Linked DNA regions of Homo sapiens. The protein of the gene in region 3 interacts with the protein of the main gene of each other region in a pairwise test. Each region holds a gene or a part of one and is shown on either strand. Other genes may lie near its edges. The genes, in order: UTP25, AXIN1, MID2 and EPN2.

The links.
Region 1: the proteins of MID2 (region 3) and UTP25 interact in binary tests that used the Homo sapiens proteins (3 or more experiments, as listed by UniProt).
Region 2: the proteins of MID2 (region 3) and AXIN1 interact in binary tests that used the Homo sapiens proteins (3 or more experiments, as listed by UniProt).
Region 4: the proteins of MID2 (region 3) and EPN2 interact in binary tests that used the Homo sapiens proteins (3 or more experiments, as listed by UniProt).

What each region holds. Positions count from the first base shown.
Region 1 is NC_000001.11:209,830,951-209,837,976, forward strand, and holds part of UTP25 (U3 small nucleolar RNA-associated protein 25 homolog), read left to right. Parts: coding exon 1-93; intron 94-2,234; coding exon 2,235-2,408; intron 2,409-4,124; coding exon 4,125-4,213; intron 4,214-5,850; coding exon 5,851-6,261; intron 6,262-7,026. UniProt on the Homo sapiens protein: Component of the ribosomal small subunit processome for the biogenesis of ribosomes, functions in pre-ribosomal RNA (pre-rRNA) processing. Essential for embryonic development in part through the regulation of p53 pathway.
Region 2 is NC_000016.10:293,720-300,745, reverse strand, and holds part of AXIN1 (axin-1), read left to right. Parts: intron 1-1,541; coding exon of another isoform or gene 1,542-1,562; exon of another isoform or gene 1,563-1,735; intron 1,736-2,447; coding exon of another isoform or gene 2,448-2,471; exon of another isoform or gene 2,472-2,486; intron 2,487-2,494; coding exon 2,495-3,024; intron 3,025-3,519; coding exon 3,520-3,690; intron 3,691-7,026. UniProt on the Homo sapiens protein: Component of the beta-catenin destruction complex required for regulating CTNNB1 levels through phosphorylation and ubiquitination, and modulating Wnt-signaling.
Region 3 is NC_000023.11:107,919,859-107,926,884, forward strand, and holds part of MID2 (probable E3 ubiquitin-protein ligase MID2), read left to right. Parts: intron 1-4,484; coding exon 4,485-4,646; intron 4,647-6,235; coding exon 6,236-6,443; intron 6,444-6,812; coding exon 6,813-7,026. UniProt on the Homo sapiens protein: E3 ubiquitin ligase that plays a role in microtubule stabilization. Mediates the 'Lys-48'-linked polyubiquitination of LRRK2 to drive its localization to microtubules and its proteasomal degradation in neurons.
Region 4 is NC_000017.11:19,310,340-19,317,365, reverse strand, and holds part of EPN2 (epsin-2), read right to left. Parts: intron 5,315-7,026; coding exon 5,222-5,314; intron 4,262-5,221; coding exon 4,087-4,261; intron 1-4,086. UniProt on the Homo sapiens protein: Plays a role in the formation of clathrin-coated invaginations and endocytosis.

The DNA.
Region 1 (7,026 bases), on a different chromosome or scaffold from region 3:
TTGTAGATGATGCAGAAATGAACGATGAAGATGGTGGTAGCGATGTCAGTGTGGAAGAAGAGATGGCTGCAGAGTCTACTGAAAGTCCAGAGAGTAAGTGTCTTTACTATAGGCTCATCATCTTTGCCAGAACTATAGACAGTTCATCTCATGAGCATGGTACCTTATATACTGTGTGAGTTGGATGAAAGGACATGAATCCAAAATAGGGATTTACCCTTGTTGGGTTTGATTGTATCTTTGAGAATCTGATGGAAACACAGAACCTTCTTAGCACAGCTAGGCAGAAATAACATTTTTGCTTGTAATTTCAGGGACTTCATCAGTACTAGTGAAAGACCTCCTAATACAGAGGAAGGAGAACACAGTTCTGTCTTTGTGACTGTCTGAATTTATTGAAGAGGTTACTGTTCTTCTCTTAGGGAGACCAAGTTTGATGGAAGATAGACATAAATATATATAAAAAATTTCAAACAGTAGATTTGCGATTGCATGGAACAGCTAGATGTAAGGTGTTGAAGAGAGGCAGAGTGGTTGAACACTGCCAGTGTAAATTAGGGAAGGCTTCAGGGACTCTGTGTCACTCAGACTTGAAGGTGACTTTTTTCTTTAACTTCAAAATCACCTTCATTGAGGTATCATTTACATACAGTAAAACGTATCCAATTTAAATATACAGTCTGACAGGTTTTGACAAAGGTATACATCCAAATCAAGATACAGAACATTTCCATTACCTCCAAAAATTTTTCTTATCCTTTTGCAGTCAGTTCCCCACCCTTGGCATCAGGCAGCCACTGACCCGCCTTCTGTCACTGTAGATTAGTTTTGCCTGTTCTAGAAATTCATATAAATTGAATCATACAGTATGACTCCTTTTGTGTCTAGCTATTTTTGCTTCTCATGTTTTTCTAATTTATTTGTGTTGTGCATGTATTAGTCACTTACTACTTTTTAGTTGCTGGAATAGCATTCCATTGTCTGAATATAGCTGGGTGACTTTTTACTCATTATTTTAATGCCTATTTTTCTTATAGCCTTATTTTTTTTTTATACCTTCTGGTATTATATATCATTCCAGGTATTTTAACTGATCAGTTTTACTGAGATAAAAATTCATTGACTTACACTTAGGAGTTTGTTTTGTTTGTTTCTATTTTTCTTTGCTTTTTTGGATTTTTAAAAATGAAAATTTTTTTATCATTATAAAAATAATATATATTTACTGTAAACATTTAAGAGGGTAATATAGTTACCCTCTATCCCTGCTACCCAGAGATAAACACCTTTAGCATTGTATATAACCTTTCAGACTACATTTTTATGATTATATATGAGTATGTATATATATTTATGTGTATCTGTATAATGGCCTTATACATTTCCGTAACTTCCTACATCTGTGACTGTGGATTCACATTAGCTTCTTAATTACATAGTATTCCATTGTAAAAATATGATTGTACCCCATTGATAGACCCTTTTTCCCCCAGTTATTTCTTATAATCAGTGCTGCTTTGAACATCCTCTCATGTACATCTTAGTGTACTATGTCTGGTTACTATTTTAGAATAAGTTCCTAGAACTAGAAGTGGGTATATTAATTCGAAATCTCCAGAGAAACAGAACCGGTAGGATATGTGTGTATATGAGAAAGAGATCTGGCTCACGCCTGTAATCCCAACACTTTGGGAGGCTGAGGCAGGCAGATCGATTGAGCTTAGGAGTTTGAGACCAGCCTGGCCAACATGGCGAAACCCCATCTCTACAGAAAAATACAAAAATTAGCCAGGCATGGTGGTGCATGCCTGTAGTTTCAGCTACTCGGGAGCCTGAGGTGGAAAAATCACTTGAGCCCAAGAGGTGGAGGTTGCAGTGAGCCAAGATGACACCACTGCACTGCAGCCTGGGTGACAGAGCCAGACCCTGTCTCAATATATAAATAAATAAATAAACGCTCATCCAAAAATACCCTCGCAGAAACATCCAAAATAATGTTTGGCCAGATATCTGGGCACTGTGTCCCAGCCAAATTGAGACATAAAACCCACCATCATGCATCATGTGTTGATGATTAGGCTTAATTTTGAAATCTATGTTTTCTACCTGAATTTACCTAAATATAAATAGTATCAATGAACGCTATTGTTGGTATAGCCTAAGGAAATAAATTTTGTCAACAGAAGTATAATTTGTGAGTAAATAATTTTATAAAATGTTTCTCAAAACTGCAGATGTAGCTTTATCTGCTGACCCTGAGGGAAAAGAAGATGGGGAAGAGCCACCGGGCACATCACAAACATCCCCCGAAGAGTTCACAGATGCAAAACACGAGTCACTGTTCAGCCTGGAAACCAATTTTCTGGAAGAGGAAAGTGGAGACAACTCTTCTTTGAAAGCCTCTCAAGGTCATAGCACAGTGTGTGTTATTTGAATTCACCAGGTGCTTAGTATGGAATTTGTGTACTAATACACATTGAATCTATTATTGGAACAAACAGCAATAAAAACAGTTTAGTGGCTAGATCTAGAGCTGGGAAAAATAATTCTAAAAGGTATTTTGTGTTTCTCAGTGTTTAGGGGTTGGACGGGACATTTAGGAGAACAAACAAGAATGATGGTAGGGAAGGCCAGCTTCCCAGGCCTCACATTTTCATTATTGGAGTCAGGGGAAGATTTCTGATTTTCTCCCCAAGTAGGGAAAGAGAAAGAAAAAGAGGAAAAAATACTTCCTCTACCCCTCACTTGCTGTTCCTTTTTGGAGCAGTAATTTTTCAGATTTGCAAGACCCAGGGGTGGCTAATCTGAGTGGTCTTTATTACCAGGGAGACCCTCAAAAGCCAAAAAGCCCTACCCTGTGTCTCCTGCCTCCCACAGACTCTTGACCACTCCTGTGACCAAATGGCAGTCACGTGGTCAAGACGTGCCTATGGCGGGCTTTGATGGGTTCCTGCTGTCTCAAGTCCAGTTTCTCAGCCAGTGTCTGGGTGGGCAAGTCAGGTTGGTCTCGTTCTGTATCCTGATTGCCTTCATTGATCTCATTGCCATTCTTCAACCCAGCTTTACCTTTAATGAAACAGAAATTTTAATCCTCATTTGACTCATTTAGTTCTGTTGGTTATTTTGCAGGAGAAGAAGTGACAGGTAGAATTTGTAGATTTTAGTACAAACTCCATTCTGAACCATTAAAACTTAGAAACTTTGGAGGAAACATTAGGAAGCTTGACTGTCCCATAATTTCTGTGGTTGTTTTGCTCATACAGATATATTAGCATCTAGAATTCTTATGTCCTGTTGTTCACTCTTAGATATTTAATACAAGATGCATTTCATTTGAAATTTTACTGTTTGGATGCTTGGATGGGTCATTTAACTTTGTTCTGTTTCTTATGAGTGGGACTGGGAGAGAAGGTTGGGTGGCTAGCTCAGAATACTAAAGATTACTTGGAGTGCAGATGCTATCATGTGGATCATTTGTTCAATTCAGTGGAGTATTGGTCATATCTGTGTGTCCCAGTGCAAGATCAATCAGACATGGAACCTGTTCTTAGAGACCTTGCAGTCTGCTAGATAAGACATGTATATATGTATATGTGTTGGAATGGGTGGGTTGGGCAGAGTAGGAGACTTGAGAAAGTGATGACTCTAGGGAACAAGGTGAGCCAACGTTGTGCCTAACACAGTAAGCCTGGGAAGTATTTATTGTGATTCAGTGGGTAACATTAAATTGATAACATTTGGATATGCAAAAATGAAGTGAAGGAGAGGCTGGAATTTTTAGTTGAAGGAAGGAAAAGCACAGAGGCAGAAGAATTTGAGGGCCATATAGTCCAGAAATGATAACGGAGATGCAGGTTGGAGGTATATCCTAAAGTGCTCTGAATTCCAGGCTGAGAAGTTTCTTCAAAAGTTTTCAAGCTGGGAAGTAATATAATTAGAGAAATGTTTTAGGAAAATGAACCTTTCAGAAGTTTTTAAGCTCTGGACTTGGCCAGAGGGTGGGGAAAGTCAATGGAGAAAAGGATGAGTTAACACAATGAAGATCAACATGTCTTTCACAGGGGAAGACCACAAAACCCCTCTGTAGTTGCATAGTGTGCTGACATTTTTTATTTCTGAATTAGATCCATTTCTTCAACATGTGAACAAAGAACTGAAAGAAAAAGCAATTCAGGCTGTTGCCACAAATCCCAAAACTACCCACGAGCTTAAAGTAAGTGTTGCTTGGTCATCCCGGTCACAAATAGAGAAAGCTCTAAATAAAACAGTGGTCTTGGGTTTTAGTGGCCTCCCAGAATGTATGATATACACCTGCAGTAGATGGCTTGATAGGGAAGCAGGGCATAAGGAAGGCTAGAAGAGCCTAGTGGGGCACAGTTGTAGCTAGAAAACGCACCAGGAAGCTGGAGTGTGGGTGCCAGATAATATAATGATGGGTAAGAGTGGATTTGGAGACCAACATCTTCAAGGAGCTATCACATTTTGACCCAAGGCAAGTTCATCTGCTTTTTTGCTATTCACTATTCTAGTCTGCTAGAGGGGGATAATAATACCTATCTCAAAATAGAATAGTTTACTAATACATAGTGTTCAGTAAAACAGTGTTCATTAAAACAGTAGGTACTACTGTTGTTCATTTGTTTGAAATATCTGAGGTAGGTCCACAAATAAATTATCCAGATATTGGGCAGTTTTTGCTTCTTTGTTCTTACCACTGATGCCATTCATGAGAGTTGGTCATCCTTTTTTTAATTGAAATTTTTATTGAGGGAATAATTATAGATATACATGCAGTTGTAAGAAATCATACAAAGACATCTTGTACCCTTTGCCCAGTTTTCCTCAGTGGTGAAATCTTGTAGAACTGTAGTATAATGTCACAGCCAGGAAACTGACATTGATATAATCTACCAGTCTTACTCAGATCTGGTTTTACTCCTGTTCAACTGCATATGCCTGTGCCTATATTTATATACAATTTTATCATGCATAGGTTCCTGTATCTACTCCTGCCATCAAGATGCAGAACATTTCCAGCAAAATACAAATCCTTGTTGCCCTTTTATAACCATATCTGCCTCCCTCTGCACCCTGCCCCACCCCCATTTCTAACCCCTGGTAACCACTAATCTGGTCTCCATTTCTATAATTTTGTCATTTTAAAAATGTTAAATGACTCATACAGCATGTAACCTTTTGAGATTGTTTTTTTTTCACTCAGCATGATTCCCTGGAGAGTCATCCAAGTTATTTCAGCTATCAGTAATTTATTTCTTTTTATTGCTGAGGTTGTCCTATTTTTAGATCAGCAATTTAGCTATAATGCAAAAATTCTTAAACTTGTATCCCACAAAATAGAAAATAGTATTCCTTAGGATTTAAACAAAATGGACAGATTTCTTGTCATAGAACTTGTCAACACCTTTAGTATCGAGTGTACATTGTCAATCTCCCTCAGAGGAATTAAGTTTTGTGATGTTTATCAAGGGTATTTGACCATGGAACCCCTTTGTTTCTAGAATGAATGTTGACTCTTCCCAGAATATATTCCACAGAACAGTGTGGGACAACTGATAGGGTGAAGAGCTCAGATTTGAAGTCAGAAACCTTGGGGTCTAGCCCTCAGCTCCATTTTCTTCTGTGTAAACTTTGTATCATACAACCTCTGTATGAACCTCAGTGCTTCCTAAACTATAACATGAGTATCATGGTAACTACCTTGCAGGGCTGTTGTGAGGATTAAATGAGATGATCTATAAATCATGAAAAAATTCGCTAAATATAGTACTATGTGAATGTAATTTACTGTTATTCATTTCTAATTTGGCTCTTGATCTGTTTCTCCCCTAGTGGCCTATTCTGGGCCAGCTTTTCTTTTCCTCTAAGTTTCAGAAGTTGGAAACATTTAAACCCCCAAAGGATATTGACTTAAAGTCACTTCATCTCCAGAAGCCTCTGGAATCCACCTGGACTAAGACCAACAGCCAGTTCCTATCTGGTCCCCAAAAATCAAGCAGCCCATTCACCCCCCTCCAGAAAGAACTCTTCTTAATTATGAATTCTTACCGGGACCTGTTCTACCCGGAAAGGACTGCTCTGAAGAACGGGGAAGAGATCCGCCATGTGTATTGCCTGCATGTGATAAATCACATCCTCAAAGCCAATGCCCAGGTGCTTGGCAACAATAGCAGACGCCGAAGCCAGAAGTTTGGAGTGGGTGATGATGATGACTTCAGAGACCAAGGGTTAACAAGGCCCAAGGTGAGTCCAGCAGGAAAGCTTTGCTCTCGAGGAGGTGGCTGCAAGGCACTGCCATAGAGGTGCCTGACACTTAGCAGGAACTTGGGTATTTTAATAATTGACTGGCATAATGAATGAGCCCAAATGTGAGCATATTAAGTAGGCCAGGTAGTGTCAGAGCAGCACTGCAGCAGCTTAGTGGGCTGTTTCTGACAGTGGATGTAGCTGGAAACTTGCGAGAAGGAGGCACTTCATGACACTTTCCTTAAAGATAAACCCAGAGTATATAAATAAAACTCCATTATAAATCTCTTCTTTGTGGTTGTCAAAGCTGGATGGGACCTTAATGAGCCTTTTATCCAATCCCTCCATATTACAGCTGTGGACAACCCCAAATTCGTAGAAATTCATAGAGGGCCTTGCTAAAGAGAACCAGGGAAAGAATAGCAGAGATGAGACAAGAACCATAGATTCTCTTCACTAAGCCACATACATACGTCAGCCTTTGAAAGCAAAAATTTACATTTGCCACTGTAAAGTTATTGCTGCTTAAAGTGATGCGTTTGTATTCATAAGTCTAAGCTCTAGTGGATTTGAGGCCTTAACAGGAAATGGCTTTCAATTTTATCTACATTATTCATGATGTTATAGAACCAGGACTTGTCCCCCTGCCCTGAACTGCATCTCTCCGTATTGAAGAAGCCTCATCTTTTTAGAATTTTCTCATTGAGTTTAATAGGATTCTAGAAATTTGATACTAATGTGGCCTTTAGAGATTTCTTAGTC
Region 2 (7,026 bases), on a different chromosome or scaffold from region 3:
AAAGGGAGGCAGCATAGCTGCATCCGCCAGGGGATGCCCACCACCCACCTGTCCCCCGGCTCTGCTCCAGCATCCGTCTGTCCTCTTTAGTGCCATATTTCACCCTCAGCCCCAGTGCAGGTGCCCGCAGCCAAGCCCACACCAGCTCTGGGGCACGCCTGTTCCAGTTGCATTTGGATACTTTTGCAGGTGTGAGAGTTGGGTGCTAAACGTTGGGAGGTTTGTTTATATTAAAATATAGAGGTAGGTGGGGCACAGTGGCTCACATCTGTAATCCCAACACTTTGAGAGGCCAAGACAGAAGGATCACTTGAGGCCAGGAATTTAAGAGCAGGTTGGACAACATAGTGAGATTCCCCATCTCTACAAAAAAAAAAGAAAAAGAAAAAATTAATGGGACATGGTGGCATGCACCTGTAGTCCCAGCTACTTGGCAGGCTGAAGCAGGAGGATCGCTTGACCCCTGGAGGTTGAGGCTGCCTTGAGCTGTGATGGCACCACTGCGATTAGGTGTGGTGGCTCACACCTGTAATCCTAGCACTTTGGGAGGCCAAGGTGGGTGGATCACCTGAGGTCAGGAGTTCGAGACCAGCCTGGCAAACAGGGTGAAACCCAGTCTCTACTAAAAATACAAAAAATTTAGCTGGGCATGGTGGTGGGTGCCTGTAATCCCAGCTACCCGGGAGGCTGAGGCAGGAGAATTACTTGAACCCGGGAGGCGGAGATTGCACTACAGCCTGGGACACAAGAGTGAAACTCCGTCTCAAAAAAAAATTAAATAAATAAAAATAGGCCGGGCACGGTGGCTCACACTTGTAATCCCAGCACTTTGGGAGGCCGAGGTGGGCAGATCACGAGGTCGGGAGATCGAGACCATCCTGGCTAACACGGTGAAACTCCATCTCTACTAAAAATATAAAAAATTAGCCGGGCGTGGTGGCGGGCACCTGTAGTCCCAGCTACTGGGCAGGCTGAGGCAGGAGAATGGTGTGAACCCGGGAGACGGAGGTTGCAGTGAGCCGAGATCGTGCCACTGCACTCCAGCCTGGGTGACAGAGCGAGACTCTGTCTCAAAAAAATGAAAATAAATAGGCCGGTTGTGGTGGCTCACTCCTGTAATCCCAGCACTTTGGGAGGCCGAGGGTGGTGGATTACCTGAGGTTAGGAGTTTGAGACCAGCCTGGCCAACATGGTGAAACCCCGTCTCTACTAAAAATACAAAAAAATTAGGCAGGCATGGTGGCACACTCCTATAATCCCAGCTACTCGGTAGGCTGAGGCAGGAGGATTGCTTGAGCCCGGGAGGTGGAGGTTGCAGTGAGCCAAGATCGTGCCACTGCACTCCAGCCTGGCTGACAGAGCGACTCTGACTCTAAATAAATAAATACATACATAGATACATGGTAACTTAGTTCCCTCTCTTTCTTTTGTATTGACACCAGATTTACTCAATACTGTTTTAGTTTGTCAGTCCAATAAGATGAGAAAATAAGTATGAGATGCAACTTGGAATTAAAGTGATCAAATGTTTGCTCTGACAGATAAGCTTCAGCACCTGTTAACTTGGAGAATCAAGTGAAACTCCACCGGCTTCATGTGGAAGCTCGTCAGGCAGCATCACAACATGTACATAACCCAAGAGCCGTTCTGTACAAGGTTCTCCTTAAAATATAATGGGAGGCCGGGCGCGGCGGCTCATGCCTGTCATCCCAACACTTTGGGAGGCCGAGGTGGGTGGATCATGAGGTCAGGAGTTCGAGACCAGCCTGGCCAACATAGTGAAATCCTGTCTCTACTAAAAATACAAAAATTAGCTGGGTGTGGTGGCGCACACCTGTAGTCTCAGCTACTTGGGAGGCTGAAGGAGGAGAATCACTTGAACCCAGGAGGCAGAGGTTGCAGGGAGCCGAGATGGCACCATTGCACTCCAGCCTGGGTAACAGAGCAAGACTCTGTCTCAAAAAATATATATATATACAGGCCAAGGCAGGCAGATTGCTTGAGCTCAGGCATTCGAGACCAGCCTGGCCAATATGGTGAGAATCGCATCTGTCCCCAAAGTACAAAAAAATTAGCTGGGCGTGGTGGCACACGGCTGTGGTCTCCGCTATTCTGGAGGCTGAGGTGGGAGGATCGCTTGAGCCTAGGAGGCGGAGGCTGCAGTGAGCTGAGATCACACCACTGTTCTCCAGCCTGGGCAACAGAGCAAGAACTTGTCTCAAAAAAAGAATAAAACTAAACTAAATCTGTGCAGAGCTCTGCCCACAGCCGATACATACGCTGCATTCCTTGAGGCCTTGCTGTCTCCGCTCCTTCTGTCTATGCCCCGTCCTGCCTCTCCATCCTCAGGGACAGGACCGGTGGCGAGGGGCCCCCGGCCACCCTGGGCTGGGACGGCATCTGCTGGGGCTGCTGGGTCAGGCCTGATGCTTTTTGTTTTCCCCAAGTGTGCAGCTGGTGCTGAGAGGTGATGGTGCTGCTTGTCCCCACACAGGAGGAGGAAGGTGAGGACGGCGATCCATCGTCAGGGCCCCCAGGGCCGTGTCACAAGCTGCCTCCCGCCCCCGCTTGGCACCACTTCCCGCCCCGCTGTGTGGACATGGGCTGTGCCGGGCTCCGGGATGCACACGAGGAGAACCCTGAGAGCATCCTGGACGAGCACGTACAGCGTGTGCTGAGGACACCTGGCCGCCAGTCGCCTGGGCCTGGCCATCGCTCCCCGGACAGTGGGCACGTGGCCAAGATGCCAGTGGCACTGGGGGGTGCCGCCTCGGGGCACGGGAAGCACGTACCCAAGTCAGGGGCGAAGCTGGACGCGGCCGGCCTGCACCACCACCGACACGTCCACCACCACGTCCACCACAGCACAGCCCGGCCCAAGGAGCAGGTGGAGGCCGAGGCCACCCGCAGGGCCCAGAGCAGCTTCGCCTGGGGCCTGGAACCACACAGCCATGGGGCAAGGTCCCGAGGCTACTCAGAGAGTGTTGGCGCTGCCCCCAACGCCAGTGATGGCCTCGCCCACAGGTGAGCGTGCGCCTGTCAGTGAGGAGGGGGCTTGGGGTGAGGCTGTGTCCCTGCAGAAGGCCAGAACCTCCTCATAAAACTCAGGAAACCCAGGACCGCCAGCAACAGGCAGGAGGCCCCTCTGCTGGAGGGAGTGGACTGGGCCCTGGGTCAGGGGAGTCCACGCCGTGACCTCAGGTGGGAGATGAAGGTTAGGGGACACAGCCCGACCCTGGCTCCCGCTCTGGCCCTCAGTCTTCAGGGGGTGAGCAGTGACTGCCTGTGTGTTTAGAGAGGAAACCAACCCCCAGACAGCACCAGGACAGCGGGCAGGGGACAGCGGGTGGGGGACAAGCTGGCGGGGGACAGCGGGTGGGGGACAAGCGGGCAGGGGACAGCGGGCGGCGGCTGCACCACGGGAGCCTTACAGATGCCAGGAGGGGGCCTCGCAGACGAGGAAGGGGCACAGCCTCGGCCACCGGAGGCCAGGGCGACTCGCAGCTCTTGCCCTTGCAGTGGGAAGGTGGGCGTGGCGTGCAAAAGAAATGCCAAGAAGGCTGAGTCGGGGAAGAGCGCCAGCACCGAGGTGCCAGGTGCCTCGGAGGATGCGGAGAAGAACCAGAAAATCATGCAGTGGATCATTGAGGGGGAAAAGGAGATCAGCAGGCACCGCAGGACCGGCCACGGGTGAGCACCCCGCACGCAGCCAGCCTCGTGGGGCCTGCTTTGCCACCCCTGGCCTCCGCACAGTCTCAGTGTGTGCAGCTTCAGTGTGTGTGGCGAGTGTCGCCTGTGACGCCTCACACTTCCCCTGTCACTGTGGCACCCTCCCGGGCACCCTCCAGCAGGCTCCCTGGGCCCCACGTCTCCAGGAGGAAAACCTCATGTCCCCAGAGAGAGGCTGTCCCTGAAGCCCCGAGCAGGAGGGAAGCTGACGTGGCTGTCACCCCGCAGGCAGCACAGATGCTCTCGGGAGGTCATTTCCAGTCTGACCCCCACATGAGAATGACCTAAGTCACCTGGGAAGGCCCCCACTGACCATCACTCCCGAGGTGCCCACGGAGGAGCCTTCTGTGCTCACACCTGGCCGTCCTGCTGAGGGCTGGGGAAGGCTCTTGTGTAGCGTGAGCACTTCTCTCCTCCCAGAAGGGCAGAGGCCTCGTGTGTGGTGTGGAGCAAGGCCCCGGCGCCACAGGTCCAGCCCCTGCCGCTGCCCGCCGGGCCGGTCTTGGTGTTGCTCCTGCTCGCCCCCTGGGCCTGCACTCGTGCCCGGAACCCAGCAGGAGGGCCAGGGGCCCCACAGAGGTGGTACCCCCCACCTTCCTGTCGTGGTCAGAGGCAGGTCAGCTGGGAAGTGTTGGCCCTGGTGGGTGGATGGCCCCAGCTTCCTCAGACTTAGGTCCTGATCTGCCCCCCACCCTCACCCAGGCCCTGGCCAGGACGCATCTCCCTCCACATTACTTGATGAGAACTTGTGAGGCAGCTGAGCGCCTGGGGCGTGGCCCTCCTGCCTGTGTTGGAAGCCTGTCCCGCAAGGCCTTGGGGTCCCCATCGGTGCTGACTGAGGTGGGGACGGGCTCATCGTTTTTCTGGGGCTCCCGAGGGAACAGGGGTGCACAGCACCTTGCCTGGCTCATTTTTTGTAGAGGGGGTCTCAGTGTGTTGCCCAGCTGGGTCTCAAGCTTTTGGGCTCAAGTGATCCTCCCACCTTGGCCTCCCAAAATGCTGGGACTACAGGCATGAGCCACCATTCCTGGCCTTCGAGTCTTTTTTTTTGAGACGGAGTCTAGCTCTGTCGCCCGGGCTGGAGTGCAGTGGTGCAATCTTGGCTAACTGCAACCTCCACCTCCTGGGTTCAAGCAATTCTCCTGCCTCAGCCTCCCGAGTAGCTGGGATTACAGGCGTGAGCCACCACGCCCGGCTGATTTTTGTATTTTTAGTAGAGACCGGGGCAGGGGGTGGTTGCCATGTTAGGCTGATCTCGAACTCCCAACCTTTGGTGATCCGCCTGCCTCGGCCTCCTGGAGTGCTAGGATTACAGGCGTGAGCCACCGTGCCCGGCCGAATCCTTTTTTTAAATAGCTGTATATACTAAATATTGCATGTCCCATATTTTAGGATAAGTATTAATACATTCCACTTTGAGACATACTTATACTTTTTATTCATTAAGACTTTTTTTTTAATTTTTTGCGACAGAGTCTCCCTCTGTCACCCTGGCTGAAGTGCAGTGGTGTAATCACACCGTTCACTGCAGTCTCAGCCTCCTGGACTCAAAGCTATCCGCCGGCCTCTAGGATTAGTATATAATTTGTATCCCAGTAAAGCTGTTAAAAATAAAATGTAAAAAAAGAAGCCTCATCCCAGCACTTTGGGAGGCCGAGGCAGGTGGATCGCTTGAGGTCCGGAGTTCGAGACCAGACTGGCCAACATGACAAAAACTCCATCTCTACTAAAAAAAATACAAAAAATTAGCCGTGTGTGGTGGCGAGTGCCAGTAATCCCAGCTACTCGGTGGCTGAGGCAGGAGAGTCGCTTGAACCTGGGAGGCGGAGATTGCAGTGAGCCGAGATCCGAGGTCGAGCCATTGCACTGCAGCCTGGGCAACAAGAGCAAAACTCTGTCTCAAAAAAAGAAAAAAAAAAAGTCTCCATGAAAGAATTTTTTTTTTTTTTTTTTGAGACGGAGTCTTGCTCTGTTGCCCAGGCTGGAGTGCAGTGGCCTGATCTCAGCTCACTGCAAGCCTCGCCTCCCGGGTTCATGCCATTCTCCTGCCTCAGCCTCAAGAGCAGCTGGGACTGCAGGCGCCCGCCACCACGCCCGGCTAATTTTTTGTATTTTTTTAGTAGAGGTGGGGTTTCACCGTGTTAGCCAGGACGGTCTCGATCTCTTGACCTCGTGATCCGCCCTCCTCAGCCTCCCAAAGTGCTGGGATTACAGGCGTGAGCCACCGCGCCTGGCCTTTTTTTTTTTTTTTTTTTTTTTTTGAGATGGGGTTTCGCTCCTGTGGCTCAGGCTGGAGTGCAACAGGCCAGTGTCAACGCACTGCAACCTCCACCTCCCAGGTTCAAGTGGTTCTCCTGTCTAACCCACCTGAGTAGCTGGGATTACAGGCACCCACTATTATGCCCAGTTAACTTTTTGTATTTTTGTAGAAACAGGGTTTCACCATGTTGGCCAGGCTGGTCTTGAACTCCTGACCTCAGATGATCCACCCGCCTCGGCCTCCCAGCGTGCTGGGATTACCGCGCCTGGCCATTTTTTTTTTTTTTTTTTTTTTTTGAGATGGAGTCTCACTCTTGCCTAGGCTGGAGTGCAGTGGTGCAATCTCAGCTCACCGCAACCTCTGCCTCCCAGGTTCAAGCGATTCTCCTGCCTCAGCCTCCCGAGTAACTAGAATTACTGGTATCCACCACCACACTTGGGTAATTTTTTGTATTTTTTGAGTAGAGTCATGGTTTTGCCATGTTGGCCAGGCTGTTCTTGAACTCCTGACCTCAGGCGATCCACCCACCTTGGCCTCCCAGAGTATTGGGATTACAGGCAAATGAGGGTTGGTTTTTTGTTGTCTTTTTTATTCCTGAGACTGAGCCTCACTCTGTCACCCAGGCTGGAGTGCGGTGGCGTGATCCCGGCTCACTGTAACCTCCACTTCCCCAGTTCCAGCCATTCTCGGGCCCCAGCCTCCAGAGTAGCAGGGATGACAGGCGCCCAGCTAATTTTGTATATTTAGTAGCGATGAGGTTTCACCATGTTAGGTTGATCTCGAACTCCCGACCTCTGGTGATCTGCCCGCCTCGGCCTCCCGAAATGCTGGGATTACAGGTGTGAGCCACCATGCCTGGCCGGGATGTTTTTATTGTGTGGTCTGTGGAGGACGTCCATGTGGCTTGGTGGCCAGGCCCCAGTGCCCCATCCCATCCTATCCCTCAAGGAGGCTGCCCTTGTGAGATGAGTGTAGCCCCACCAGGCCACCTGGCCAGGGTGTCGGCCACAGTCACAACTTGTTCTCTTGTTCCCCAA
Region 3 (7,026 bases):
CAATTGAATGTCTAAAACAAAAATACAAAGCCTTGAATTTATCCCTAGTACATTTTATCTGGTTAGTTCTGCCACTTCATTTCAGCATGCTAAAATCCTTTGGGATACAGATTCTACCTTCAAATATACTTGCTTACCCTCACAGCCTGCCTTCTATTTCTTCCTCTAGTTATTGATAGAAAATTTTGTTAGAACAAGGACAAGGGCAGAGGCCTGAAGCAAAATTTTGGATGGCAATGAGAAACTATTTTACTAGGAATAAGTATTTTTGAAGATTCAGGATCCCAATCCTACCTGCCGGTCTGGCCTGCCACAGTTGACTGAACCTCCGTTCTGAGAGCTACTTTCCTTTGACGTTTTTTCACATTTTCTTTATCCAGAAATTTCATGCTTGTTGGTGAGGATTATTCCCCCTTCACCTTTTCTTTCAACTTTATTTCCTGATTTTTAACTTTCTTCCCACCTCTTCTAAGATTTGAAATGATCACAACCAATGATGTTTCAGATTATGCTGTGAGGTGAATGAGAATTCCAACAGATATTTGAGTGTGTTTGTCTTCTGATTACTTTATTATCTTTCCTCCGTTTGAATTTTGTGTTTTGCATTACAAAAGCATTAGCCGTAAACTCTGCCTAGCCAGGCGGACCATAACATACTACCAGAAAGACATAACTTCTATTTCCCTTCCTTTTCATTCTCATGCAAATACTCTCTACCACACATTTACACTCAGGTTCAGGGATTTCCATATTGTAATTTTTCCCTTTTGAACAAGAGGTATACTTCCACTGACATAATTCAATCATAAGTCCCATCTTACTAAATCTCAGTAATACCTAGAGGATCATATATTTACCTTTTTAAATTTAGAAATGATTTCAAAATCACAGAAAACTTTCCAAGACTAGCACAAAGAACACCCATATATTCTTTACCCAAATTCACCTACTGTTAATATTTGTCCCATTTCCTTTAGCATTTGCTAACATTCCCTGTTCTTTTGGAACCATTTTAGAGCAAATTGCATACATCATGGTCTTTCACCTCTGAATTCTTCAGTGTATATTTCCTAAGAATAAGGAAATTCTCTTACATAACCACAGTATAGTTACCAACTTGAAGAAATTTAACGTTGATGCAATACTTTTATCTAACCACCATTTATATTTCAATTTTTGACATTTGACCAAATAATATTCTTTATGACATATAAAGAACCCAATATTGTCCTTTATAGTTTAGGGTCAGGTATTACATTTAATTGTCGTATCTCTTTTGCCATATCTCTTTTAATCTGGAACATTTCTTCAGCCTTTCTTTGTCTTGAACAACATTGACATTTTTTAAAAAGTGTTCTTTTATGTCTTTATTATACTTCATTATACTGTTCCTTATTTTGATTTTTTCTGAAGTTTTCTCATGATTATATTTAGCAGTACAGTTCTTTCTTAGGGTATAATATCTGGAGACACATGATGTCCACTTGCCCTTCACTGATGATGCTAATTTTGATCACCTAGTCAAGATGTCGTCTGATTTATTCACTGTAGTTGCTACTTTTTCTTTTGCCACTAATAAGGAATCTGTGTGGTATGTTTTAAAACCATAAAAATACCCTGCTGCTTCATCAAACCATCTCATCCCTACCCCCACCCTTGTTTTATTATCAGTTGATGATACTTGCCTGAATCAATCATTAATATGATGATTGCAAAATGATGATTTTTCCAGTTGAGTATTCCCTCCCACATTTTCAAGTTGGCACTTGGCATTCTACTATAAGCAAGAGTTCCACTCCCCATTTCCTCCCATTTGTTTATATATCAGTATGGGCTGATGAATTATCTTTTTTCAATTGTTAATAATTATTTACAGCCCTTACTTGTGTTGGTGTTCAAATTGTCAAGATTTAGCCATTGGGAGCCTTTCAAGGTGATTTCTGGGTCCTTATAATATTCCCCCATCATTTTCTTGAGCACTTCCTTACTTTCTGGCATAACAAAATGTTCTAGGCTCATTTTGACCTTATTCTGTCCCAGCCTTGAAATCAGTCATTATTTTCCAAGAAACCCTGGTTTCTTTTAGTGGGACAATATTAGAGACCAAGACCTGAGTGCTAGATATGCTAGATATAAACACAAATATCCATACATGTAAGCATATGCACACATATATAATAACACATGCATACATACTTTATATATGTGCATATTTATGTGCACATACACAAACATATATATATTTTAGAAATCATGAGTTTACACCAATACCTTAAATTCCAGTCCATCCCCACAGGTTCCTTCCTGCCTTTCTCCATTCTGTATTTGTATGTTCCTTCTTCCACAGTATGAACCCTGGCTCCCAACATCAACACATGTACTCATTTGCTCAATCCCATAATACATCTAAAATAGTTTCTGAATTGCTCTGTCCACGCCACAACAAAAACAAACTGGCTAACAATACTTCAGGATTTGTTTGAGGTTTTCCTCCCACCCCCACTACATTGATGTAATTATGCTGTTCGTCTGAAATGCAGTTGGGTTTGTTTCAGTTTGCCTTCAGCTTTAGTCCCCAATTTTCCCATCTGTATTCATTTAATTTTATTTTTTTGAATTTGTAAAACAATGTGTTTCCCAAAGAGGATGCTATACAAAAAGGTACATTCAGAGAAATGTCATTTCCTCCCACATCCTTTTAATCCTGTTCCTCCACCCCCTACCCCTTGTGGATAACCAACTTCATGAATTTTTTATTTATCTTTCCTGTTTTTATTGTTGTTGCTTTGTAAATCCAAGCAAATATATGGATGTTTTCTTATTTTTCTTTCTCTCAAAAAAGTAGTGTACTGCATATATACTACATATACATATATACTTTTGGAATTTGCTTTTTTCAATTGACAATATTTCCTTGAAATCACTCTATATCAGTTCATAGTGATCTTTTCCTCATTTTTTTCACAGCTGCATAGTACTTCATTGTGAAGTTTGTCTTTGTATTGTTGGGTGTGTATCTGGAGATTATATGTTTTCCTCTTTGTATTAAAATCTTATGTGCAGCTTGTGATTCATACTGTGTATTGGTAACATAGGCAAGGCCTCAAACATTGCTCCTACCCTTTTAATCCATATTGTCTTTTCATTAGAATCACTGGGCACCTCCACCAATTCTTCCTCCTCTTTCTCCTGCATATCTGTTTGCCCTCCATCGTTTCTTTTACTAGTTTTAACTTAGGCTCTTCAACTTCCTCTCAGATTAATTATAAGCCCTTTGATCAGATCTCTTGCAAAACATTCATGACTTATTATTTTCAATTTTCAACCTCACTAAATTTTGTACTAGAGTTGCATAGAAATGACTGAATTCACTGCTTATATTCCTCGCCTTTCCCTTTCTACCCTCTAGTAGAACTGTGGCTAAAAAGTGGTAAACTAACTGAAAAGCAGATAACAGTAGAAAGAAGTCTAAATAATCTGCAGACTAGAATGTTGGTTTTTCTTTTACCGAAAGCTTGCCAAATACATGTTTTAATTATTTACATTTCCCCTGTTTAAGTTAATATTTGCAGTCTAAAATATATCAAAAGCAGAAGCCTAGTTCTCTGATCCCTTTCCCTACTTGGAAGGGAGGAAGATTCCAGATAACAATGTGCTCCTGGACCACTCAACCCAAAATGAACATGGGAATCACACAACAGAATGTGTTGTGTAATAGTGGGGAGATGATATCTTGCTTTGGTTATCATGTCATCTCTTTGGCTTCCCTACGGTACTGTGGAGACCGGCTAGTTTGGGAAGTAAGGGTAAGGATGGAGTAGGAGAGTGGAATTGTAAGCCCTGAGAGCCTCACTACCTTGCAGAGACAAAAGAACATTGTTGTTCACCCCATGAACTGTGATGTAGTAGAGAGAACACTGGGCTACCATTTTAAAAATACCAGGGTTCTATTCTCAGCACCATCACTGACTATCTGTGGCCTTGGGCAGGTCACTTTTCTTCTCTCAATCCTAGTTTCCCATTTGTAAAATAAGGGAAATACAGTATCTATGTGTCCCTTTGGCTGAGTTTCCATGTTTCCCTGCTCTGCACAGGATTGCTCCATCCATACAAGACCAAACTCAGCTCTCAGAGGAGTGGACGTTTGGAGTAAATATCCAGAGACTCCATAAGAGTGATGATTCCGTGACTCTGTATAGTAGCCATTCCTGTGTTATCTGGGAAAGAAATTGAAATAACCTAACTTATGCTAGTAGTTCCATTCAATTGCCACAAGCAAGGAGCCTGGCCTAAGCCTAGTTCTATGGGAGTAATGAAATAGTGGAATCATAAGCCCTGGTTCATCTCATTACATCTTCTAAGACTCAAAAGAAAACAAAATGAATTCACTTTTGAGGGGGTGGCTTATGATGAATTTTCAGTGTGTTTTTCATTCTGTCTCTCTTACCTGCTGGTTAATGTCCTTGTCTTTCCCCATGTTACAGGCCTGTATAATTCAGTAGACAGCTGGATGATTGTTCCCAACATTAAACAGAACCATTACACAGTGCATGGACTCCAGAGCGGGACTCGCTACATCTTCATCGTTAAAGCCATAAACCAAGCCGGCAGCCGGAACAGTGAACCTACCCGACTAAAAACAAACAGTACGTTGTGGTGATTTCAAAAGGAAAGATCAATTTTCTTCTCCATGCCAGGGGAGTACACAGCCTGAGCAGGCACTCACAGCAGTGCATGGGGAGCAGTGGTACTGGGTAGAGGAGCTATACTGTTGTAGTTTGTACTTTGGGCAAGGAGTTTGTTGGTGCCCATGGGAGATTTGTGGACTCAGAGATATGCACAAAAAGACTGTTAGCTTGGGAGGATGTTAGTGAAGAGTTTTCTCTGTACTCCACCCCTTATATTTGGGGGACAATTGCATAAAAGAGCATTATTTGTGATAATCTAGTAAAATCTTACTACAGAGAAGCCATATCTGTTAGGAATGCTTTTGACAGCAAATAACAAAAAGTGCAACTAACATAGCTTAACAAATAGCGTTTGTTAATTGTTTAAATGAATAGTATATATTTTATCTCTCACACATACACATAGGAAGAAGTTTGAAGGTAGGCAGTTCAGGGCTAATGCAGCTGCTCTGCGATGTCATAAAAGATGCAGGCTCCTTCTCCCTGTGTGCATTGGCTTCTTGCCACATGGCTGCAAGATGGCCACTGCAACTTTCAGATGTCATATTACCTCTCAAGATAGGAAAGAGGAAAGAGTTGGTACACATAATGGTTATCCCTTTTATCTGGAAATCCAAAACTTTCCTAGAACTTTCCCCTGCTCTGTCTGACTTCTGCTTCCATCTGCTTCCATGTTCTTAGCCGCCCCTAGCAGTAAGGGAGGCTGGAAGATTGAGTATTTAGCTTTTCCGGCCTCTATAGTGAAAGTGAGTAAGAGAGAAAAAGTTGGGAAAGGGTAATGTGTTAGCCAACAGTGTCTGTCACAGAAGCATTCTGTATAAAAATCTCTTGCCACACCCAGCAACTGGTCCCTCAGTAACAATGCCTTTGTCATATGGTTATAAAGAATTATCTGTTGTGAATGATCCTACACAATAAATGTTTTCTCTGATCATTGATGATGCAACAGTCACTCTAACAAAATTGCCTAATTATATGTTATTTACATCCCAATTGTAAGAGGGCAAAAATAATTGTTCAGTTGCTGAGTTCTCAGGGTTTTCCGGTTCTGCCATCAAGCAGCAATTACATCAATTCCCCTCACCTCAGACATCATAACACTCTTTCTGTTAAAATCTACCCAAATCCCAAACAACCCACTGAAATTAAGCAAAGTACAAAACATATTTGAGAACATGAAACTTTGAGCACTCCCTTTTACTTTGATAATATATGATGTGGGGGACAGCTTATTAGCTCCTCTTTGCTTGGAATATGACTTCCCTCAAATTGCTTTTAGGAGAGATCCACATTTTTTCCCACAGTGGGAAAATAAACGCCGTTATGAAGGTCGTTTTATGGGAGATTGGCCTTTATTCTTATTTTATTGAAAACTCTGGTTTCTGGCCTGTTTTCTTAATAAAATTTAAACAGCAGCCAACTTGCACTGGACCAAGAGTGATCATGTTATCGAGCATACCCTGCCAGTGATGATGCTGGTGGAAAAGGTAGAATTTTAAGATACTTCATAGTGCTTTTTCTTTTTTTTTTTTCTACTTATTTTTCAGGCCAACCCTTTAAATTGGATCCCAAAATGACTCACAAGAAGTTGAAGATCTCCAATGATGGATTGCAGATGGAGAAGGATGAAAGCTCTCTAAAGAAGAGCCACACCCCAGAGAGGTTTAGTGGCACAGGGTGCTATGGGGCAGCAGGAAATATATTCATTGACAGTGGCTGCCACTATTGGGAGGTGGTCATGGGTTCCTCAACATGGTGAGTGGATCCCATTTTCCTTTTCTTTTCTGTCCTCTGTCATTAGGTTCCTAGGAGATTCAATTCTATAGCACAACCATAATACCAATAAGTCAAGGTTAAAAGGTATGTGATGAAAACCACTCCTAGAAAAATTTGCCAGCTTTTTAATAAAATAATGGAAAATATACTGGGCTAGGAGATGGAAACTGCCACATTGCTCTAATTGCTAACTTTTTAAAGCTCTAGTGATATCAGCATTATGCATCTAAGTGTAAACTATTTAAGGAATAAACATATATCCTATTTGTTATATATCATATATGGTGTCTTACACAACTCAGATAATTCATAAATGTTTATTTCTCTCTCCTTTCCACTGTCTCACAGGTATGCAATTGGCATTGCCTACAAATCAGCTCCAAAGAATGAATGGATTGGCAAGAATGCCTCCTCATGGGTCTTCTCTCGCTGCAATAGTAACTTCGTGGTGAGACACAACAACAAGGAAATGCTGGTGGATGTGCCCCCACACCTGAAGCGTCTGGGTGTCCTCCTGGATTATGACAACAATATGCTGTCTTTCTATGACCCAGCTAACTCT
Region 4 (7,026 bases), on a different chromosome or scaffold from region 3:
GGTCTTCTGAATCAGCAGGCTATAAGCCCTCCTCAGACCAGGTGGCTGCTTTGTGTGTCTGGAACAGAGGAGGAAGCGCCCCACTGACCTGGCAGGCTCCAATCTCCCTCCTTTCAACCCTGAGCATTTCCTCCCAAGGCCACTTGGCCAAGTTGCTCCTAGTGCTGCTTGGAAAAAACTGGTAATGATGGGGCTCACTACAAATGGTGGCTTTCAAAACAGTGTTTCTTTCATCCAGAGGGCACAGCTAACACTGTTAGGGGAAGGGACTCCAATCTTTCTAATTTATGAATGAGTCTCAGGATGGAGGGGTGACCCTGAAAATTTGCACTATTGGATTTAACTAGATGCTAAACAATAAATCCAATACCACACTCTTGCTCTGAGGCTACGCTGATGGAATGTGGAAGCAGAGGGTGTGCTAACACGCTTCAGTGAATGCAGGAGCTAGCAGAGGGCCATTCTCCTGCAGAGCTGGTCAACACCACCACTGAGAAAAGAATCTCAGAATTAAAAGAAATCACTGTGATTTTAATGTATTTTTCTATTGAAAGCAGAGTGCCAGAACTGCAAAAACACCCCTATGAACATCACTAGGCTGCTTAGTAAATGATGGTACAGCGTGGTATTGTTTAGAATTTCTAATGATGCCTAGAAATGCTCATGACACTACAAATTGAAATATACACATACATACACACGTAATTATATATACAATATAGCTTCAACTGAGTAAAAACATAATGCCCAGAAAAAAGACAGGAAGCAGACAAGCTAACATTTTAACAGTGGCTATCTCTCCATATTGGAATTTGTGGTGACTTTTCCAGGACATGCCAGGGCCACAGAAGGGCCTTGCAGCAGTCCAGGATGGTGTGACAACTACAGGACATGGTGCCATAAGCACTGAGCCTGTCCCAAACCTATTAACAATGTCTATGGGCTTTGGTGGCCTATCTCCTCCCCAAGTCACTGGTAATAATGCCAAGTGCATCAGAACCAAGAAGGTCCTAGGCTGGGCAAGTGGCAAGAGATGGCCAACTGGCAGTCAACAAGCCACATGTGCCCATCCTCAGATAGCTTTTAATTAGCTCAAACCATATTCTTAATTTTTAAAATTCACAGCCAACATTTAAACACTAGATTTCAAAAATCCAGGTTTCTATCTTCTCTTTAAAAAACTGGATTCATAATAGCCAAAATGTGAAAACAGCCCAAATATCCATCAATTGCTGAATGGTTAAACGAAGTGTTGTATATCCATGCAATGGAATATTATTCATCCACAGAAAGTCATGAAGGACTGACACACGCTATAACATTGATGAACCTTGAAAACATGATGCTAAACAAAATAAGCCAGGCACAAAAGTCCACACAGTGCATGACTCCGTTTCTATGAAATGTCCAGAGAGGCAAATCCCTGGAGATAGAAAGCACATACTGGTTGCCAGGGCCTGGGTATGCGGTTTCTTTCTGGGGTGATGGAAATGTTCTGGAATTAGATATCTGATGGTGGCTGCACAACATTGTGAATGTGCTGAAAACCAGTGAAGTGTCCGCTTTAAAATGGTTGAAATGGGCCAGGAGCGGTGCCTCATGCCTGTAATCCCAACACTTTGGGAGGCCGAGGCAAGCGGATCACTTAAGGTCAGGAGTTTGAGACCAGCCCAGCCAACATGGTGAAACCCCGTCTCTACTAAAAATAAAAAACTAGTTGGTGTGGTGGCACAAGCCTGTAATCCCAGCTACTCAGGAGGATGAAGCAGGAGAATTGCTTGAACCTGGGAGGCGAAGGTTGCAATGAGCTAAGATGGTGCCACTGCACTCCAGCCTGGGCAATAGTGAGACTGTCTCAAAAAAAAGAAAAAAAAAAGTTGAAATGGTGAATTTTATCTCAAGTTCTTAAAATTTGGGAGGGCAGATTCACATGGGCAGCATTCCTAGGTGAAGCAGCAGCCCATCAAGCCCACCAAGTTGCCCCCATTCATCAGGGGAGACTCCTCCGCTCACACCCCCTGGACTCCTGTACCGAGTCTCACCCCAGGGTGCTCTCAACATGGTATTGCTATTACGCTATGTTCCTAGAGGGTCAGGTCAGGTCCTTGGCTCGGCCCAGAACACTGGGTCCAGGGCACAGCCCTGTTCACCAGCCAAAGGAGGGGCTGGGCATAACTTGGTCATTTAAAGATATTTTGAGATTTTTGTCTCTCCTGACTGGGAAAAACTTACCCCTGGTAAACAAGCCAAACAATATAAAAAGGTAAAGTGTTAAAACTAAGTCTCCTTCCCACCACTCTGATCCCCAATTCCCTCCCCAGAATTTAACTCTATTAAACCCACCTGGCTCCTGGTGTGACCACTTTCTTTACAGGGCACTAAGACAACTATCCGACAGTTTAATGAACAGTCTTTCCTGAAAACATCCTAACCATAACTTATGGTGGCCATCACTTTACAGACTAATCATTCTTCAGATTTAAAAATAAAGCCAAAGCCACTGTCTAAAAGGGTCTGCCAGCCCTGGGGCACCACAGTCCCCATGTGTGGTGAGTAAAACCATACCACAGGCTCCCTGGGGGTACCACACACAAGTGACAAACCTTGTGAACCAACCTCTTGAGCAGCCCTGGAACTGGCCTTCAGTCAATGAAAGCTGTGGGCAATTTTGCCTGGGGCTTTTCCCAAGGCCCAGAGGGCTCCTGCCAAAGGGGGTATAAGGCCCTGCCTGGGTTACAGAGGCCACCATCAAGCTATTGGAACTCACCAGATGCTAAAGGGCATCGGGGGCTGACAGTGTCTTCTGGACCAAGTCCAAGCACTTGGTAAGGCTGAGTGCAGGCCCTGAGTGATCTGGGCCCTTCTCCCCTGCTTCCCAGTTCACACCAGCTGGTTGCATCTGCACCCACTCCACCACTCCGTACCCCTCTGCTTCTCACACGCTGAGTCTTCTGCAGGGAACTCCCTGCCTCTTGGTGCCTGGACACCTTCTTTTCCCTGGGGACTCAACGGAAGTGGCCTTCCTCCAAAATGCTTACCTCACACTCCTGGACTCCTGTACTGAGTCTCATCTCATCCCAGGATGCTCTCAAATAACCTCCATCGAGTCCTGGACTACACAGTACTGCTATTACGCTGTGTTCCTGCCCTGCCCGCTCCTGAGCAGGGCCTTGACAACAGACAACAGGGACAATAATCACCTGTTGTCTCAGGGGTCATGCACAGCAGAACACAGCCTGTCACTTGGTACATTTTAGCAAACATCTAGGGAACCGAGTTAAACACAAGAGACGGTTCTGAGAGAAACAGAGACTCCAGGAGATACAGGCAAGATGCCACAAGATATACAAAGTTCCCAAACAGCCCACAGGTCAGCCACGCCCAGTAGGGTTTAGCACACCAGGAGGGGCCTCCCAGGGCACCAGGCCAGGAAGCCTTCATAAAGCCTGCTGGGCCATGCTCCTGCCCAGTGATTAAGAAACTCGTGGGCCCAAGATCATCACCCAAATCAAACCAGTTGTGTCATGCTCACATTTTGAACTTCCCACCACAATTCCTCTTACATCTCACATTAAGCAAAACTTTAAAATATTCATTTAGCCTATTAAACGGATTTTCTATTGCTTTAAGTAACAAGCAGAATTATAGCAAATGTATCCCCTTTTCATCAGCAGTGGTGGTAAGCACATCATAATTTCCATCTAATTACAGCAGCTTGATTTGGATGTTCCATGCTGTGTATTTTGGTTCCTTCAGCTGGGACGCTGGGTGTAACGCTGAGGCTGCAAGAGTTGAAACATGTCCCAGAGAAGGCACAAGCCATTTCTGATGCAAATGGGAGGTTGAGGGGAGGTTGACTTTCCTTCTCCCAAAGCAGAAAACCACTCAAAACAAAGAGGGAACACCATGCCACCATCCTCAAGGAGGAGGGCAAGGGCCAGTTGGATATCACTGCTGAGGGCTGGAGGAGCCTGGACACCCACCACAATCGACCAGACCCAAGTGGGTGAGAGACAGCAAGAAGCACTGCCCTGCCCCTCACCCATCCAGCAGGCAAGCACGGGAGACCAGTAATGGGGTCTTTACCAAACGATGGCCAGGGGTCTGAAGTACTCGCAGGAGCCGCTGGCCCGCCCCAGGGGTTGGTCTGGTTAGTGGAGGCTGACGGGCCCCAGGGCTCTGCTTTCTGGGCCGCGGGGCCCGAGCTGGGGAGAGCATCCATTAAATCCAACAGCGTAGTCTGCTGTGGGAGAGAGCCATGCTTTTAAGACAAAGAGAAGGGGACAGGTTTTACTATGCTACAGTTACAGCAAATACTCATGAACTAGCCATAAATATCACCCACCTGTGCCTCTTCCTCCAGTGAAGCCCTCTAGGAGGGGCTGAGAAGAACTTGGAAACTGAGCCGTCCCATCTCCCTCCCCGTCCAGCCAGCTCTCCAGTCACAACAAGCTATTTACTGTTTGCTAAACCCCCTCACCAGACTTCAGAGACCTCAGGGCTCAACAGACTTTTCCAGGCTAACACTGGCTTCTGCCCAGGCTGTGGACCTCCTCCAGAACGCCATCCCTCCCACCTGCCAGCCACCATCCAGGGCCAGCCTGAGGGCCCTCCTCCTCGGGCACCTGCATGCTCCCCACTCTCAAGACCACCCCATGTGTCATCAGGGATCATCAACATCAACCAGTCAGGAGCCAGGGGCTCCACCGGCCTCAGTAGCACTGTAACAGAGGAGGCCAATGGAGCCCCGGGGCCTGTGGTGTAGAAGGGGTCTGGGTCTTGACTGGATGATGATGAGCTTGTCAAGAGCCCAGCCATGTCCTGGTCATCTCTACATCACAGCAGGAAGCCTGGCACAGGGCTGAAGAGGCAACCAGCACTTCTGGGGGCACACCCTGCTGCAGGAAAGCGTTCCGCAGCCCCTGGCATGTAGCTCACTTGACAGCTGCCGTAGCCACAGCGGCAGGAGGCAGGCACTATCATCACCTCCATTTTACAAACGAGCAGACTGAGGCACTGGGACATTAAGTGTCTCCTGGTTAGTTCAGGTGTGTTTTCAGTCGCTTGCTCACCTGGCTCTCGCTCACTACAGGCATGAAGGTTATTTGCTGAGGTTGGAGAACTCACTGTGCATCACGCCATCCAGGCAAGTTGGTGGGGGGATATTGAGGCAACAACTACAGGACAGGGTGAAACATCTACCCTCCCAGCAAGCTCTTACCTCTTTCTTTTTTGGAATTTTAACTGTGTCCCTTCGGCTTTCTTCCAGGGCCATCTGTAATCTGAGGTCATCACCCCGCCTGAGGCGTTCTTCCTGTAGAGGGACAATGCAAACTGGTAATTGTAATAACATCACTGTACAGAACAAAGCCACACTGGCCAGAAACAGGAAATGCACATTGTATGATGCAGTATTTCAAAGGAAGATTTCAAAACTACTTGTAAAACACAATTACTTTCAAATCCCAAATGTGTGTGTACCCAGAAGGCCCCTCCCTCATGGCGACTCCTGTGACTTGGACCCCTGTGGGGTCACACCAGGGAGACTATGGCTCAGGTACCACCAAACTGGGGAAAGGGAATGCTTAATCTAAAATATTTTTTTCTCAAAATGAAACTGGCTTTATAAATTCTACTTATAGAAGCAATGTGTGTCCTTATAAAACACAAATCTGACAACCCAAAAAGGAATTAGAAAGAAGATAAAAATCACGTATCATTCCACCTCCACTGTGTATGCTTCCGGAAAATGGCTGCATATTTCTATGATTCCTAACAGAAATGATTCACTATCTTTATTTAAGGCAAAGTCACCATATGCAAAAGACAGGGTTGTCCTAAGCTTTTATATAATATAATAATTAAATATAAATAATATATTCCTTGTATTTTTTCTTTTCTTGTTTTTAAGAGATAGGGTCTCATGGTATTACCCAGGCTGCTACACAGTAGCTATTCACAGGGACAATGCCACTACTGATCAGCACGGGAGTTTGAACTTGCTCCCTTATATTTTATTATAAATATTAACTAAAATGGGCTCAAACCGTCCGTCTGTCCCTATGTTTCTCAGTGGATGCTACCACGCACCTTCTTCCTGGGCTGCTGGCCATGAAGCCACATGCATCCACCTGGGCAGTTACTGGTGGCCTGTTTCCCACTGCAGGGACAGAGAGGCCACAACTGAGATTGCCCACTGTCACTGAGCTTTAGAATGTTGCCAGTTATAGACACACAAACAATGCCGGGATGAACTTGTCAGTACTCAAATCTAACTATCCCCAGTATTCCTCTCTGAACACCAACTTCTAATAGAGGAGAGGAATCCCTGTGCTGCCCCTGGTCCCATCTACCTTTTTTAACCAAAGGTCATTGGAGACAGCCCTGATAACTGCAACCAAAGGCTTGACAATTTGTAAGGCCACTCTAATTGCTCCTTTCCCTTCTCGCTGTTGTAAAGTAATGCATGCTTACTAAAGAAAAATGGGGGCCAGGCACGGTGGCCCAAGACTGTACTCTCAGCACTTTGGGAGGCCGAGGTGGGCAGATCACTTGAGGTCAGAAGTTTGAGACCAGCCCGACCAACATGGTGAAACCCTGTCTCTACTAAAAATACAAAAATTAGCCGGGCATGGTGGCACGCGCCTGAAATCCCAGCTACTCGGGACGCTGAGGCACGAGAATCACTTGAACCCAGGACGCGGAGGTCTCAGGGAGCCAAGATTGCACCACTGCACTCCAGCCTGGGTGACAGAGTGAGACTCTGATTCAAAAAAAAAAAAAAAAAAAAAAAAGAAAGAAGGAGAAAGAGAGAAAGAAAAGAAAAGAGAAAAGAAAAGAAAAATGGGAACTGAAAAAAACTAAAACTATACATACTTCCATCATCAAAACACAAGCACTCTCATTTCGGGAGCATTTTTTCCCAGCCTTTGTTTTTTGCAAATCTCTTGCTACAGGTCAAAGTGCTTGGCGGGGGCTGGGCTGGCTCCTGCCCCTCAGGCCTGCATCCCTGCGCCCACCCTGCAT